2 separate regions of the Homo sapiens genome follow, and region 1 is linked to region 2. The links come from fine-mapping of genetic effects on plasma protein levels. A gene starts in region 2. The other region holds a variant in brackets. All regions are shown on one strand. Distances are between the middles of the regions.

Region 1 (8,346 bases), 32 kb before region 2:
ACTATACACTTTACATTCATTATATGGTTTCTTTTTTTACTTATTTCCTCAATCAGTCAGTCAACGAACATTCGAGATCCTGTCATGTGTCAGACACTGTGCGGAGAGCTGGAGATAAAACTGTCAACAAGATGAATGCAGCCTCTAAAATAAAGAGTTTCTAATCCAGTGGATTCTCTGTTCATGCTTCTTGCACTTTCTCTACACTTTGCTCTATCAAAAAAAAAAAAATTCAAAACACTCACGAGTTTGTTGACCTTAAAGTGGAATCAGCTGATACAAATTAAAAGCATTTTGCATTTCAAAAAGTGATAAAGTCTAATAAATAGCTCACTAATGGTGAAATTTCAGAGACATTTATTTTAGGCTGGGGTCTTCCTAATTCAGAAAAAATCAGTCCAGTTTCCCTATTTTACATCCAAACTCCTCAAATGACCAATCTCTATTCTCTCTCTTTTTTATTTTTTGGATGAGTCTCTCACTCTGTCGCCCAGGCTGGAGTGTAGTGGCACAGTCTCGGCTCCCTGCAACCTCCACCTCCCCAGTTCAAGCGATTCTTCTGCCTCAGCCTCCCGAGTAGCTGGGACTACAGGTATGCATCATGATGCCCAGCTAATTTTTGTATTTTTAGTAGAGATTGGGTTTCACCATGTTGACCAGGCTGGTCTCAAACTCCTGACCTCAAGTGATCCACCCACCTAGGCTTCCCAAAGTGTTGGGATTACAAGCGTGAGCCACTGCTCCAGGCCCCAATCTATTCTCTCTAACTGCTTTTATTTCCTGGCCTAGAGCTCCCTACCATTCCACTGAAACGGATTTAATAACACAAATAGCATTATCACTAAGTCCGAAGATATTTCATTAGAACTTCTCTTCCATTATTTTATGGCATTTTAAATTTTTAAAATCACTCCTTCTGCATTGAAAAACTATCATACTGAGGTTTGACGCCATAATTTGTTTAGCTCCCCTCCCACTTCTCTGTGGAATCATTTTTTTTCTCCTTTAAAAGCTTTTCTTCTTTTGATCTCCTAATTGTGTGAGTTCTTCAGGCTACTACTTGAGCAATTAAGCCCATATTTAAAATTGTCACTGATGATCCATTATTTATAGCTTACCAACGTGTGTTTTATGGAACACTGTTCCCACAAGACCACATTGAAAAACAATCAAGAACCCTGGCAAACATTTCTCCTTTGCCTGCACATTCTACAGAGATCATAAAAATAAATATTCTTTCTCCTGATCATACTTCCAGACAGAGTGAACATATGATACAATTCTGACCAACAAGGCATAACTGAAGTCTGTTGACCCTTCGCTTTTCTTACTGCTTTCAACACGAACTCAAAGCAGGAACCGTGGTAGATAATTTGCAATTTTGAAGGATGGGCTAAATGAATTGCAGGGTCATCAGCCTCCACGCTGCACTGAACATAGGTCAGCAACCACTTACCTCCTGAGTTCTCACTACGTAAGATGAAGAAATCTTTATTTGTTTGGACTTCCGTAGTCAGGCAATTTATACCTCGCACCAGAACATACTCTTAATTAGATATAAAAATGCTACATACTATATGTCCTTCTTGGAGCTTCAGAACGCACATTAGAAAAATTAGAGAACTGAGAAATTCCCAAGAGAAGAAACCTGTGGAATTCTGCTGAATTTGTCATCTCCTAAATTTATTTGATCAGGCAGCCCTTTTCTTCTTTCTGTACTGAACTACCAATGTCTCACAGAACTATGGCTCTCTAGCTTTTTGCTTTTCAAAGTGTAATTTCTAGACCAGCAGTATCTGCATTGTCTGGAAACTTCTTAGAAAACCCAAATATTAGGCCCCATCCTGGAAGCAGAGTTACATTTTAACAGGATCTTCAGTTGGTTTGTATGACACTAAAGACTGAGAAGTGCCGCTTGGGAAACACTGATTTAGAGAATAAAGTACAACTAACCTTAATATCCTTATGTGGCCTATGATTTCAAGGGCCTCTATATCATTACTGTCCCTTAATGCCTACTTCACAAGTCAACACACCTAGTTCTTATTGAATGCTTACTTTGTGCGAGGCACTATGCCAAGTGCTATAGTTTTATAATTCTCAAAGCACCCCTATGAGGCAGGTACTATTGTAATCGTTACCTTGTAGATGAGATAGCTAGGGCTCAGAGAAGTTAAGTTGCCTACCCAACGTCACATAGCCATTAAGTGGCAGAATCCTTGGCTTAAGGATTTAAGGATCACTCAACTATATTGGCTTTCTAAGCTTTTGTTCCCAAGCACTTTCCTGCTCTGTGTACTTAACACACATGATTCCCTCTGCCTGCAATATCTCCCCACGTACACCTTCTTAAAAGGTCTCAGCTCAAAAAGTCAGTTGTTCTGGGAAGCTTTTCTGATCTCCTACCCCAAAGCCAGGTCAGATCCTCCTGGTAAACATTCCCCAGGCACATATCTTTACTTCATACATATCAGCTTTTATAATTATGTATATTTTGTGATTCTATGATTAGTGTATGTGTTTACCAAAAAACTAAGCTCCGTGTGGGCTTTAACTGTATCCTCTGTGCCTGACACACAGTTGACACACAAATATTTTTTAGAGTATCTTTTTTTTTTTTTTTCTTGAGATGGCTTCTCGCTTTGTTGGCCAGGTCGGAGTGCAGGTTGGCACGATCTCAGCTCACTACAACCTCTGCTTCCTGGGTTTAAGCAATTCTCCTGCCTCAGCCTCCCGAGTAGCTGGGATTACAGGCTCACACCACCACGCCCAGCTAATTTTTGTATTTTTAGTAGAGATGGGTTTTCATCATGTTGGCCAGGCTGGTCTCAGACTCCTGGCCTCAAGTGGTCCACCTGCCTCAGCCTCCCAGAGTGCTGGGATTACAGGCGTGAGCCACCGTGCCCAGCCTTTTGGAGTATCTTTTACTCTCATTTGAAACGTTCTCTCCCTATTCTGCACCAATCCAAGTTCTACCCAGAAGAAGCTATAGGATGGTGGCAAGATATTTGATTTAGCATCAGAAGACTTGGATTTGAGGCCTTGTTCCCCTACTTTGTAACTTGGAGCAGTCACAAAAACTCAGACCCACTGATTCTCAGCTCTGTTAAATGGACATAATAATAACCTCACAGGATTGGCATAAGAATTAAAATGAGCCCTGTGAGAGAAGTGTATAACCTACATAAACTTCCTAAAAATACGAGTAGCGTTTTGTAGTGATTAAGATCCTGGGTTGTGCTTAAAAGTTTCCACTCTGTAATCCAAAACCTGAGTTCAAATCCCAACTCATAATATTTATTGTCTCTGCGGTTGATTCGGCAATCCATTATTTGCTGGATTTTGTCATGTGTTTTGCCAATTGCATTCATAATTTATTATGCATTTATGCTTGTATCTCCTAAGTCATGGTATATAATCCATGCTTTTTATGTTTTGTCTGACATAAGCTCTTATCAGAGCCCTTTGCACACAGGGATTCAATAAATATTAACACAGTCTACATTTATTTGGTGAATATTGCATATCTGCTGTACTGAAAGCACATTAAGTAACAAAGGCAAGTGAGAAGAATGAAAAGCACTACTCACAACAGTTATCATGATTGCGCATGGATATGTTCAGAATGAGTATTTTTCAAATCACTTTAAACAAAGCTGAATTGCAGAAACGAAAGCCCAACAGCAGCAATTAAATTACATTTGGAATAAAATCATTTGGCCTAATTTTCATAACCACAGATTTCAGAGAATACCACCACCCATGCCAGGTGTACCAGACAATCCCATTGTCTGTTTTAGCCGTGTAGGGGCCGCTGTAGTATACACCATTCAGGTTTGCAGAGTGACACCTAGTGGAAGGGAGAAAAAAAAAGAAAACAACAATCAGACTGGAAAAATATTGTTCAGAATCCCTTTTATTTTGCTACAAATGCTCAAAATTTTTGAACTATGAATTCTGCCATTTTTCAGACAAGTAAATATTTACTAGTTTCCAAAAGCTGAGAAATTTCTACAACAGATGGCTATTGTATTTTATTTTTTATTTTTTAATTTTTTTTTAATAATAGAGACAGTGTCTCACTGTGTTGCCCTGGCTGGTCTCCAACTCCTGAGCTCAAGCAATCCTCCTGCCTCAGCCTTCCAAACTGCTGGGATAACAGGTGTGAGCCACTGCGCCTGGCCTCAGAGATGGGTATTTTAAAATGGTGAGTTTTACTGCCATTACAAATCTGAAAATACAACCCAGGCCACTCACAGTGCATTGAAAAATAAGCATTTCAATTTTTGATTTTCTTTAAACAAAAAATTAAAACAAGCAAACAAAAACGCATCCTTGTAACCTCCAGCCTTACAACCTCCTGACTCAGAACAGTGTTAATTTCATACTTAACAAGAGCTAAGGTGAGTGTCAGCAAAGCAAGTCGTGGGCAAGGTGCTCTACTACTGGCTTTCCTGGATAATTTGCACTCACACGTTCATTCCTCTGCTGCTAAGACTTAGCTTTCATAATTCAAACTCCGTATGTCCCCTTCTTTAAATTGCTAGCCTATCAGTTATTTCAATCTCAAGGGTAAGCAAACAAACCTAAATCACCATTTAAAGTTTTGCCACCCATCAACCAATAATCATTTTTTCCTAGTTGCTGAGTTAATTTTTTACATATATTGCACCAATCTAGATAA[G/C]CTGGTTAGGTTATCGACAATATAAAAATGTTTCTTTCCTCCTTTGGAGTCTGTAAATTTTGTCCTTGATATGTATAATTTACATGTAACAGTATGCAATAAGTTTATGTGTGTTGTTATGAAATTAATTGCCATATACTTCTTTATTGATAAAATTAATGAAAAGATGTCAGAATTAGGATAGAAGGAGAACATTCACAAGAGGTAGTTCTGAACATCTATGGAAAAACCCAAATTATTGAATCAAAAAAGCATATAATCTACCCGTAAAGGCTGAGTGGCTGGCTTGAATCACTTATCAGCTTAATGATTCACTCCTACTGAGCGTTCTCGAAGTCCTCCTAACTTAAATGGACGTAATTAATTGAAAATATGTATGTCAAGTCTGCAAATGTCAAAGCCTACTGTGTTTTTAAAACAGCATGGAAAGTAATGTTAAAAAAAGAAAATACTGTAAATTGAGTCTCCAGAATATATATTTTGGCATATATTTGTCTATCTAGAGACATCTGCTAACTATATTTTTATATTTGGTCTATCATTTGAATCCCATTAGGAAACTGACTCTGTGATGAACATAAGAAACCTTCACTATTCTGAGACCAGTTTTCTAGCATCGTTTAGTTTTTAGAACAGCCTGGATTTGAAACTAGGTTAGGGGATGATTGGGTCTTCCTTGGTGAAGAAGTGGCTGTGAACACTCACGTGAAATGCTACACTAACAAAGAAAAGACATCAACTCGCAGTGATTGGTTTGCTATGTGGAAAAAAACATTTTATAGGTGGGTAATATTTATGAAGTGCCAACATTTCATGTAAATTAGAAGAACTATGGGACAGAAAAAAAGCAACAGTAAGAAGGAAGAAAAGATGATAGTCGAACTCACTGATAGTAGGCATGGTAGAAGTAGCACCAAGTTTCTAAAACAATCTACTTTCTCTCCCTTAATGCCTACTGATTTTCCAATTGCACAGCCTTATCAACCCCTTTGATTCCAAGGATAATGTGGGCTCTGTGGCAGGCTCCACCTAATGAATGGCCTTTCTTTGTGCTCCCTGAACCCATTTCTTTAAAGTCAGGTAAATCGTTCCTTTGCCCACATTAATATACATGGTAGTTTTCATTCAGATGCCTTAGAAGCCAGTCAGCTGGATAAAGTACATGGTTTTGATCTCAGGATACTATTAGTAATTATTTCTGTATATGGAATTGTTTTCAAAATCAAACATTGGTGATGCTTGCAGATGACTTCATGAATTACACGTTAAGTTTTATGTCATGCTGACTTAGAAGAACAAGGGGGAAAGAAAGGAGTAGGAACAGGTGAAGAAGACGGTTTTTAAAATAACAGGAAAACCACTAAGGAAAACACCATCATCACCTTCAATTTGCAAAGCAGGAGAGTGAAATTTGTTTCTCTCCTTCACACTGCTGGAAATACTCCAGTTCCTTTATAAATGATCAAATCTTAAATGGACTCAAATGTTTTTTTAAAAAAGCAAAATATAGAAAAGATGACTATTTTTACAACAGCAGTAGTACTCCCTTATCTGCAGGGGATACGTTCTAAGACCCCTAGTGGATGCCTGAAACTACAGATAATACCAAATTCTATATATTGATACTATGCTTTTTCAGTCTGATAACCGAAACAGCTACGAAGTGAGTAACGAGCAGATAAAGAAAATAAAATTTACCAAACTGAAAGACATGATATAGATTCAAAAGAACCACTGAGTACCCACTGCAGTAAACCAAAAGAAGACCACGACAGTGTATGTCACTGTAAAATTTCAGAACGCTAGGGGGAAAAATCTTTTGGGTGTAGGAAGGAAAAAAACCATCTATAGTAGTTCTCTGTTTTTTCCTATAATATACATACCTATGACAAAGTTAATTTATAAATTAGACACAGTAAGAGATTAACAACAACTAATAATAAAAGATTATGATTATATAACAATATGTCAGCATTACAGCTCTTGTGCTTTGGGACCATTATTAAATCAAATAAGCATGATTCGAACACGAGCACTATGAAACTCCAACACTGGATCTGATAACTCAGACTTCTACTAAGTGTCTTGGGGCAGGGAGGGCTTTCAGCGTGGATACGCTAGACAGAGGGGTGACCCACCTCCTGGGCAGAAAGAATCCAATGGTGCGAATCTCTGCTCAGAATGACATGCAATTTAAAACTTATGAATTCGGCAGGGTGCGGTGGCTCACGCCCAACACTTTGGGAGGCCGGGGTAGGTGGATCACATGAGGCCAGGAGTTCGAGACCTGCCTGGGCAACATGGCAAAACCCCATCTCTACCAAAAATGCAAAAATTAGCCCATGTACCCCAGAAATATATAAAATATTTTGTATCAGTAAAAAAAGAAGCAACTATATACAATCAAAAACGGAATGAATTTGCTGATAAAGTAACATGAATGTATTCAGTCAGAGGGTAGAATTAGGTTTCTGGATTATTGTAAAGGAAATTTCTGTATTGGGAGAGGCTTAGACTCAATGAATTAATGAAAGCCATAGTGATTGAAAAGTAGTACTATACAGAAGCATTACAGCAATAACGGTGGCTCTTTTGTGTGATATGGTCAGGTGAAGAACTAGTTGGTTATTAGGATGCCAAATAGTCTCCATATATATACATGCTCTCTCTTTCTTTGTGTGAATTTGTGGCCTTCTATTTATAACTCATCCATAATTCAGTTTGCAAATGATCTTTGTAAAAGTAATAATTTATTTCTATGACATTTACACTTTACTAATGTACACAATGAACAAATCCTCAAAACGACTTCATTGCTGAAGAATTCTAATGAGAATGATTACTTAATAATACTAATATTATAAATAAAGACTAACATTACCATACATATTATATTGATAATTAATGTCTATCAGTGAGATATCATCAACTCCATTACAACTATGCTCATAAGACATCAAACCTGTTAAACCACCAGCCAGACTGATCTTCTTCTGCGCAGTTCCCTTCATAGTTGTCATGATCTCTGTCCCACGTGCTGAATTTCATTCTTTGGTGACTAGCCCACCACTGCACCTCAGGATGAAAATTCCCCGCAAGGGAATCTCCAGCTGTTCCAGAATATTCCCCAATATTCAACTCGTAGAAATTCTAAAGAAAAAGGGCATTTCTGCTGTCAGTGGAGTTCCTCTATGACCATTTTAAAATTAAGTTTATTTCATAAACAAAAGAACAGGTTCTATTGTATATTTTTATTTCCACTGACTCCAGGGTTATATTGCACATTTTAAGCATTTATTCACGGTTTTACTTCTTAGAAAATTGTAGTACCTTTTCATCTCCAACTTTGAAATTCTTATATTGTGCATAACGGCTATTTTTTTCAAAATCTGCAAGGTCGATTTTTAAAGTGTAGTCTTCTAAAAAAGAAACAAGCAATTATAATTTTTAAAAATGTGTGACATGACACGGACTACTGCGGTTTAAAAATAATTCACAGCTCTATTTTAATTTTACCATTTCCCTTGGCCAAGAATCAGTTTTCAAAGATTAAACAGTGACTCCTTTGTATATATAACATGAACATTTTATCGTGTAATTTATTTGAAAAAAAATGATGGATACAATATTAAATTTAAAAAATGTCTACTAGATCTCTTAGA
Region 2 (8,346 bases):
AATTAGAGGAAGTGACATCATTCAGTCAAATATCATCAACACTAGAGGCTCAGAGAGGGAAAATTGTTTGCCTAAAGAAATAAAAGAGACTTTCACTAAGTATATTTACACTAGTCTGGGAAATCAGCATAACGACATGACATAAATACCATTTATTTGTGACTCCAACTCAAATTGTTCTTCTGACTGAAAATAACCAATGTATTTAATAGATTACTGATTAGGATTTTTCCTTGATAAATGAAACTGCTAAGGATTAGTAGTAAAAATAATGTCCTCTTTTTTTATGTGACAGGAAACAAATTTTCATTATTTTAATCCGCTCCCAGATAATATTCAGGAGTCAAAAATTAAAAATCATGAAATGTCTGTATCTTCTAGACTTTGCTTTAATGTTATTTGTTGAAAAATTTTTTTATTTGATTAAAGTTTTCTTATGCATTTGTGGGATCAAGTACTTTATTTCAGAAGTGAATAAATTAGCTTAAAAAGTTAGAGCTTAGCCAGGCGTGGTGGCTCATGCCTGTAATCCCAGCACGTTGAGAGGCTGAGGCAGGCAGATCACTTGGGTCAGGAGTTTGAGACCAGCATGGCCAACATGGCAAAACCCCGTCCCTACTAAAAATACAAAGAAATTAGCCAGGTGTGGTGGCACACACCTTTTATCCCAGCTACTGTGTTGGTTGAGGCATGAGAATTGCTTGAACCTGGGAGACAGAGGTTGCAGTGAGCCAAGATCACACCACTGCACTCCAGCCTGGGTGACAGAGTGAGACTCCATCTCAAAAAACAAACAAACAAACAACAACAACAAAAAACACCTAGAGCTTAAAAAAGAAATTTTCTCATTCCAATGTTTGATTCTGGCTCTTGCATAAATGGAAGTATGTTTTGAAAATGCTCTGAATGATGCACCTATATATCATATAATTTTACCTACGCACACTGTATATATACGTATATGTATGAACATAACATTATTATACATAATATGTATATATTATAGATTATATTATATATACATTATATAAGGTATATAAATATTGCTTAGCATTAGATTTAGTAAAAAATAAAGGGCTAATGAAATTTTTTTGACAGGCCTCTGTCTCTTGATGTCCTGAAATGTTTATCTCACTACCATTAAGATAATCCAATAATCAAAAAGGCACCCCCTAGTCTGGTAGCATATAAACAATAAAGCATTTCAAAATGTAATTATTTACATTTAGAAAGTCATTATATTACTTTGATTAGCTTTAGAATAATTCCTGAGAATATCTTAAGTTCTCTAAAATTTTCCATTTTCCTCCTTTGCAATTCTAACCAACATTCTCTGTAATATTGAAGAAATGCTAAGCATTAAGAAACTTGCTTTGAAATTCTGGTCTCCATCATTCATTATAGTAAACCATTATTTCTTCTGCACATCTGGCTTACAGTAAAGTTGTATCAAATTATTCTGTTCATTTATTGCACAATTAGTTGTATTTCTTTTATAATATTTTTGCCTTAGGCAGTATCAAAACTTTTAATTATTATAAAATTAAAATTGTTATCAAATGGCTGTTCTTTGGTGGACTATATTATTTTACATAATTTTAATGCTATAAATTCTAATTCCTTCCCCACTATATTTAAAAAAAATTTAATTAATTACGCTGCATTAAATTTAAAGATGAAGACATTAAATTTGTAAATGAAAAGTTCTAAAAATAATATATAATTTTTAAAAACAATTACAAAACAGAAGTACATTAGTAGCATGCAAACATTTCAAAACTGGTATGTTTTAAGCAAGCATTGTAAAAGGATATATAAAAGAAATAAAAAGGAAGGAAAAAGTTATTGAACGAAGTATGTTTAATAAGTTAGCATTCACAAACGCTATAGGACTATAATGCTTAGGACTATAACCTAAGTCAGTGAGTTAAAAATGTACCCATAAACACAAGCTTAGAGACTCCTTTTAAGCTATTTCCTTCCAAATTTTTTCCTCTTTCTGAAAATGGAATATAACTGTGCTTTTGTATTTTTCTTAAGAATCCATACTCACTGAAAGCCTTACAAAGCTAAATATAGTTGATCCCTCAAGAAATGCAATAAAGAAAAATGTTTCTGAAGTTTTTTGACTTCTGAAGTGAAAATTGTCATATAGTCCATTTTATTTTTAATTTTTTATACTGAAACTGTAAACCTATCATTTACGTCAAACTCCCATGCAATTCATTCAAAATGTAAAGGAAATTATACAAAGTGAGACTCCATCTCAAAAAACCAACAAACAAACGACAACAACAAAAAACGCCTAGAGCTTAAAAAAGAAATTTTCTTATTCCAATGTTTGATTCTGGCTCTTGCATAAATGGAAGTATGTTTTGAAAATGCTCTGGGTGATGCACCTATATATCATATAATTTTACCTGCGCACACTGTATATATATGTATATGTATGTACGTAACATTATTATACATAATTATGTATATATTATAGATTATATATACATTATATAAGGTATATAAATATTGCTTAGCATTAGATTTAGTAAAAAATAAAGGGCTAATGAAATTTTTTTGACAGGCCTCTGTCTCTTGATGTCCTGAAATGTTCATCTCATTACCATTAAGATAATCCAATAATCAAAAAGGCACCCCCTAGTCTGGTAGCATATAAACAATAAAGCATTTCAAAATGTAATTATACATATTTAGAAAGTCATTATATTACTTTGATTAGCTTTAGAATAATTCCTGAGAATATCTTAAGTTCTCTAAAATTTTCCATTTTCCTCATTTGTAATTCTAACATACCTTATTTGTATATCTGTATATTTGTATATCTGTATATCTGTAACAAAAGATACATAATTCTAAATCTCTTCTCCAAGTAGCAGAAGCAGACTCCTTGCTAGTCAACCTGACTTCTTGCAAAAGCTAATGGTTGTTACCTGAGTTTTGGTTACTATCATACCTGTGAAATAAATTAGCATTATTACAAGCATGTCAAAAATGCAGAGACATTAAATAACTTGCCTAAAGTCAGAAGTGAGTCAGAGACCCAGCTCAGGTTCCATCCAGACACTCTGCTTCCCAGGATCCTGTAACTGCATTGGGAATTTGTAATTATTTCTCCATTATTTGATTAGAAATAGGGACAATGTTGATTCTGGCTTCAATCCAGAAACAAACATGTGGACACAGGTTTAACTGAAAGAAAGCTAAAAGAGAAGATTCAAGGACAAATCCCAATACTCTGATATTTTTCTTTTTTCCCCACTTGTATGACTTTTTGTGAAAGATCCAATAATATATCTTTATAAAGATATATATATTTTACAACTTATTATTATGTTCATTCAGAGAATTTTTGTACTGTAACTTCAATAATGTTCCATTGAAGATTAAGTAAAAACGAAGTCCAGCTGAAACTTTGCTTTGTATTAAGGGTAATAACATTTTACCCACAAAAATATGAATTAATATGTCATCTCAACTAAAATATGGAGATAAGCCAAATTTTTCCTAGTTATAAAAAACAAGGCAGGTTAATAATTGCCAAGGTGAAATGGTCAGTTTATTTGCTCTCTAAGAAAAACAAAAGTATTCCCTGAGGTGCAAAATTGTGAAATTTAACTGGAAGCATCGATTATACTCTGGACAAGTTGTTCCTTTTGTTTTAAAATCCTCTAGAAGATTTTCTAATGTGTAATAGGCACTTGTTAGCTCCATTAATCGTATTGTGTAACAGTTTCTTACTGGAAATCTGGGTTCATCATTTCTTCTTTCCTTCTGATGTAACTCAAGCAGTTGTTTGCCATTTGTCCTGTGGTCCCTATTTATTCACTCAGATTCCAGTAAAATACCAAAGTTTTGTTTTCTTTCTGTTCTTTGTTATCTACTGGACTTGAGCACTGACGATGTTTGGTCTTCCCATTAAACATCTTCCTGTCCTTCACGTGGACATTTTGAAGATTATTAAGGGAAAGGTAATCCTGTTGATTTACTGGAAAAAAGAAGGAAAAAAAAAGCCAGTTAGACTGAAGTGATTTGCACACACACAGAAGAAGTGGAAATTATACATTCATAATTGTAGAGAATTCAAGCTGCTAATGTTAAATTTCAAAAGCAAAAATATGGGATTATTCGGCTAATTCAATAATGATCTCTGTGGTAAAATGACATATTTTGAAATACAAACTTATCTTTCCTTCTTGTATGCCTTTAGCTTTGTCCCCATTCAAGCAATAATTTAGCCTTGTGTTCATTTCCTCACTGGAGGGACATAACATTAACAGCAGCTAACATGTGGTATACTTATCATGTGCTAAACATGGTAATTTTATCAACTCACTCAGCCACACAGCCCTATAAGTAGGTACTGTTAATGATCTCCATTTCACAAATGACGAAACTGAGACACAGAGGTTTAAGTGACTTGCACGAGGTCACACAGCTAACAAGAGGTATAGCTGGGCTCAAAGGCAATCCTGCTCAGAATCTGTCCTCTTTTCTACTAAAGGTAGACTATGCTGTCTTTCGGAAACTTGGCTAGCATCATTACCTCAGGAGAAACTTGCAAAAGTTAATCAGGCAGTAAGGACTACTCTAGGGCCAATACTTTGTGGAGGAATTCCAAAAGCCAAATTTTCTTGGAGTAACATTATTCCATGGATGTACTGCCATAACATGGTGGAAGAACTATCATCAGGAAAGGTCAAAATTATGGCCAGGTGCGGTGGCTCACGCCTGTAATCCCAACGCTTTGGGAGGCTGAGGCAGGTGGATCACCTGAGGTCAGGAGTTCGAGACCAGCCTGGCCAAAATGGCAAAACCCCATGTATTTTTAGTTTCTACTAAAACTACAAAAATTATCCAGGTGTGGTGGTGGGCGTCTGTGGTACCAGCTACACAGGAGGCTGAGGAGGAGAATTACTTGAACCCAGGAGGCAGAGATTGCAGTGAGCCGAGATCGCGCCACTGCACTGCAGCCTGGGTGACAGAGCAAGACCCTGTCAAAAAAAAAGAAAAAGAAAAAAAGCAAGAAAGAAGAGTTGTGACCTTGCACAACTGCACCAAAGCTATGAAATGAGAATGAGACCTGAGATCACTGGCTGAAAAAAGTACAAGAAAAGCATGATATAATAGGACAACAAGTACAGTCCCACCAAGATCAGGCTGATTAGGCTCTCAAACACATTAAACGGACACTGTCAATTCTTTTTTCCTTTTCCTTTTGGAAGACCTTTTTCAGAGAACTCTTCAATTAATACATCAGTTACAGCACAATTTTCATCCAAACCCTCTGGACCCTGTATTGTGCCTGCCAGATTGAACACCTGTCCATTATTTGATACTTGACCCAGTCACCGTGGGAAGGTTTAATTCCAGATCTTGCCGCCTCCAGTCCACTCAAGCTTGCAGCGAGGAACATGTCTACTTAAGGCTGCATGAGGAACTAGACTCAGACAAATGATCTTATATCCTTGACTGTATTCTACCAGCATAAATTTCTGATGGTTATATTTTCCAAACTTGACTCCCAGTTCAGGAGGCACCCTTTTATGGGACTTATAAAACTCCATGCTCTGATTACAATGATAACATTTTAAACTTCAAATGTGCCCTTTATTAAAATATTTAGAACGGAGCGTATTGTAGATATCAAGGAAAGGGGTTGTTAAGAACAGTCTTCGTTCCACACAACTAGCAGAGCTTCCTCAGGTGGAGGTAATCAAATTCCTTCCTGAAATGCTGGTTTCAATGTCATCTCAGGCAGAGTCCTGAAAAACTAGAAAGTTTATTTGCACATAACGTAGGTCTCAGAAATTTCAATGGAGAAGCATTTTAAAATTAATAAAACTAAAACAGTTTTACTAGTGAGTTATCCTAAGTATTCCCATTATTGATGTAACTAGCAGAAAGTTTACATTAATAGATGATCAATAAATAGTTCCACCTTCACACACACTTTCTGGGAAAGATTCTGACAATATGAACTAGAAAAATAAGGGTAAAGGTGGATAAAGAAAAAGAGGAAGAAAAGAAAAATTGAGGTGCTTTGTAATGTGTCAACTTGGGTAGGCCGAACTACAGTTCCCAGAATTCCTTTTGCCTTATGTTTTCCATTAGGAGCAGTTGGCAGGCAGAAAGGAAGTGGCAGCCATCTTTGCAGCTCTCCCATGCTGTAACGTATCTCGTTGGCCTTAAGATAGTGGCTAAGCCTCCAGCTGTTTCACTTCCCTTTGGATATAATTTGGAGCCTCGTTTAGCACATTACAAATGGGTCTGGCTTCTGTAGGACACCCACATCAACCAAGGTCAGAGGCAACAAGAACTGACACAGGTTTCAGTCCGTCCTCATAGATTCCAGCTCCTGCTTCTATTACGCTCATCTACTCTCTCGCTTAACTGCAGTTCGTACTTCAAGCTCCAACATCATCCCTGGAGACAGCTGCCTTTCAAAGAGTACTTAACCAGCTCCCACAGTTGCATTAAGTCAAATCCCTTATATATCCTAGAAGCTCTGCTTCTATGATTGAACTCTGCCTGTAACTCTGAGGCTCCTGGACAGGAAAGTCGAATGCCTCAGAAGGAATTTTGTCACTGCACCATTATTTCTTCCTCCCAGAGCTCTCTGTTCTTTTGCTCACATCTGGATTGCTCTCCCTCTAGGCCTGCTACATGAGGCATGTAAAAAGTAATACTGATAGACATTTGGCAGATACTCCCAAATGTGTAGCTTCAGGTTCCACACAACCTATGTCCTCCCCTGCATACTAGTTAAGATAAAATGAAACGCTTATTCACTACTCATCTTTTCAGAGCTTTCTCACCTATGTGTTTGGATTTTTTTCCCCTCTGATTCTCAAACTAATTTTAGATTGGTTCCCTAGCAGGAAGAGTACAAAGATGTTTTCTTTTTTTTTTTCTGCCACAAAAAATAAAAAGTGTTCTTGCTGAGGAATATGTTTGTTTTTCTTTCTGTGTGTTTGCAAGGACTGTGGACTGGCATTTATTTTATGCTTCTGAATAATAACATCTTTCTTATTAAAGAAGAATCTCCCCAGAAGGTCACATGTCATTAAAAAAACAATTTTAACCAAATACACGTAAATTCTAATAGAAAACAGATTTTTTACCCGTAACACATGAAGAAGAAATTTAGCTATATTGTATAAAAATATGTAGGGAAAAAAGAACACAAGAGCTCGTGTTAAGTAAAACCACATTTTAAAATACGCCTTTAGGAACACGGAAGATGGAAGGTATCAGAAGATACTTGCTTTCATTCTACTCCTCGGTGATGATGTATCTGCTTTTTTTTTTTTTTTTTTGGATGAATTTGCAGTGTATCTTTTCATCCTGATGCCTAAATCCAGTCTCTATATGTACCTCTTTTCTCCAGTTTTTAGACTTTTAAAATATTATCTTTTCATGAAGAATTCAACTAATTGGAAAATGCGTGATTCCTACCACTATGACAATATCTGAAAGTAGAATCCTCAGGGTTGCAAGCTATTCTGACAAAATTTCTGAACTCTAGCAGAAAATGTAAAAATATACATTTGACAAAAATATATTTGCCCATTTGAATTTAAATTTTGTCTTTTTTTTACTCAGTTTTTATTTCTTAGAAAAAGGAAGACAATCTAAATATAATTCCCTGAGATATAGTTTCCTTTCACTTCAAAATAACTGTACATTAGGTTGAGAGACAAAAAAATTCATTGTCTACAATTACACATACTTTCTGATTAATCTGTTGGTTAGCCCACATTTAGTTCATCAGGCACAACTTATTTTTCTGCATGTGCATTTGGGACAATAACCGGGCATATGAAACCTTTAAAATTTACATTTAAAAATTTATATTTGCACTTGGATAACTTTGCCAATAACTAGAACTCCCTCAAAAACAAAGGCTAGGTCCCTGACTCCTATAGGCATGACCAAGAGTATACTACAAAATGATTCCTCTGAGACTGAAATGTTTTTTTCCTGCTTCCCCCTCAGAGACACATTGTGGAAAAATTCTAGAACTTTTAGAATAGACATTGTGTGCTTGACTCCAGCGATCAAAGATTCTGAAATATTGAGGCCCTATTTGAGAGTCATACACTTATACTAGTTTTATTTGTTGTTGTTGTTTATAATCTGAAGAAATGAACTTCAGCCATCTAGAACAAAAATAATTGGATTTGTTGGAGGGTTACGGACTGAGGTAAGTAGTACAATCAGTGACAGACTGATACAAGCCAAGGGAAGGCAGAATAAGGAAAGCTCCAAAAATCTCTCAAAGATGTGTTCTTGGATTTATTCTGTAGTATGCAGCCCTTAAAATGTTTTAAT

Alleles and levels. Positions count from the first base shown, and alleles are read on the strand shown. Strength reflects both the effect of a copy and how common the allele is.
In carriers of allele G in region 1, the plasma level of the protein whose gene starts at base 3,108 in region 2 tends to be higher than with C alone (moderate association).

The links. PIP is the posterior inclusion probability: the model's chance that the variant is causal. Protein levels are from antibody-based Olink assays in UK Biobank. Linkage for the fine-mapping came from a reference panel and not from the study's own genotypes, which makes the PIPs less certain.
Region 1: its variant is fine-mapped to the plasma level of the FGL1 protein (UK Biobank, PIP above 0.99).

Annotation. Positions count from the first base shown.
Region 1 is chr8:17,860,902-17,869,247 of GRCh38, forward strand. It overlaps FGL1 (fibrinogen like 1), which reads right to left. Exons shown (of 8, transcript NM_004467.4): 6 at 8,015-8,103; 7 at 7,647-7,834; 8 at 3,488-3,850. The coding sequence ends at 3,691. LOC124901893 (a long non-coding RNA gene) reads left to right here. Exons shown (of 2, transcript XR_007060835.1): 2 at 57-168. Among named protein-coding and RNA genes, the nearest start is that of FGL1, 30 kb to the right of the region's middle. The variant G/C (reference allele first, on the strand shown) is at 4,685.
Region 2 is chr8:17,892,417-17,900,762 of GRCh38, forward strand. FGL1 (fibrinogen like 1) reads right to left here and starts at 3,108. Exons shown (of 8, transcript NM_004467.4): 1 at 3,031-3,108.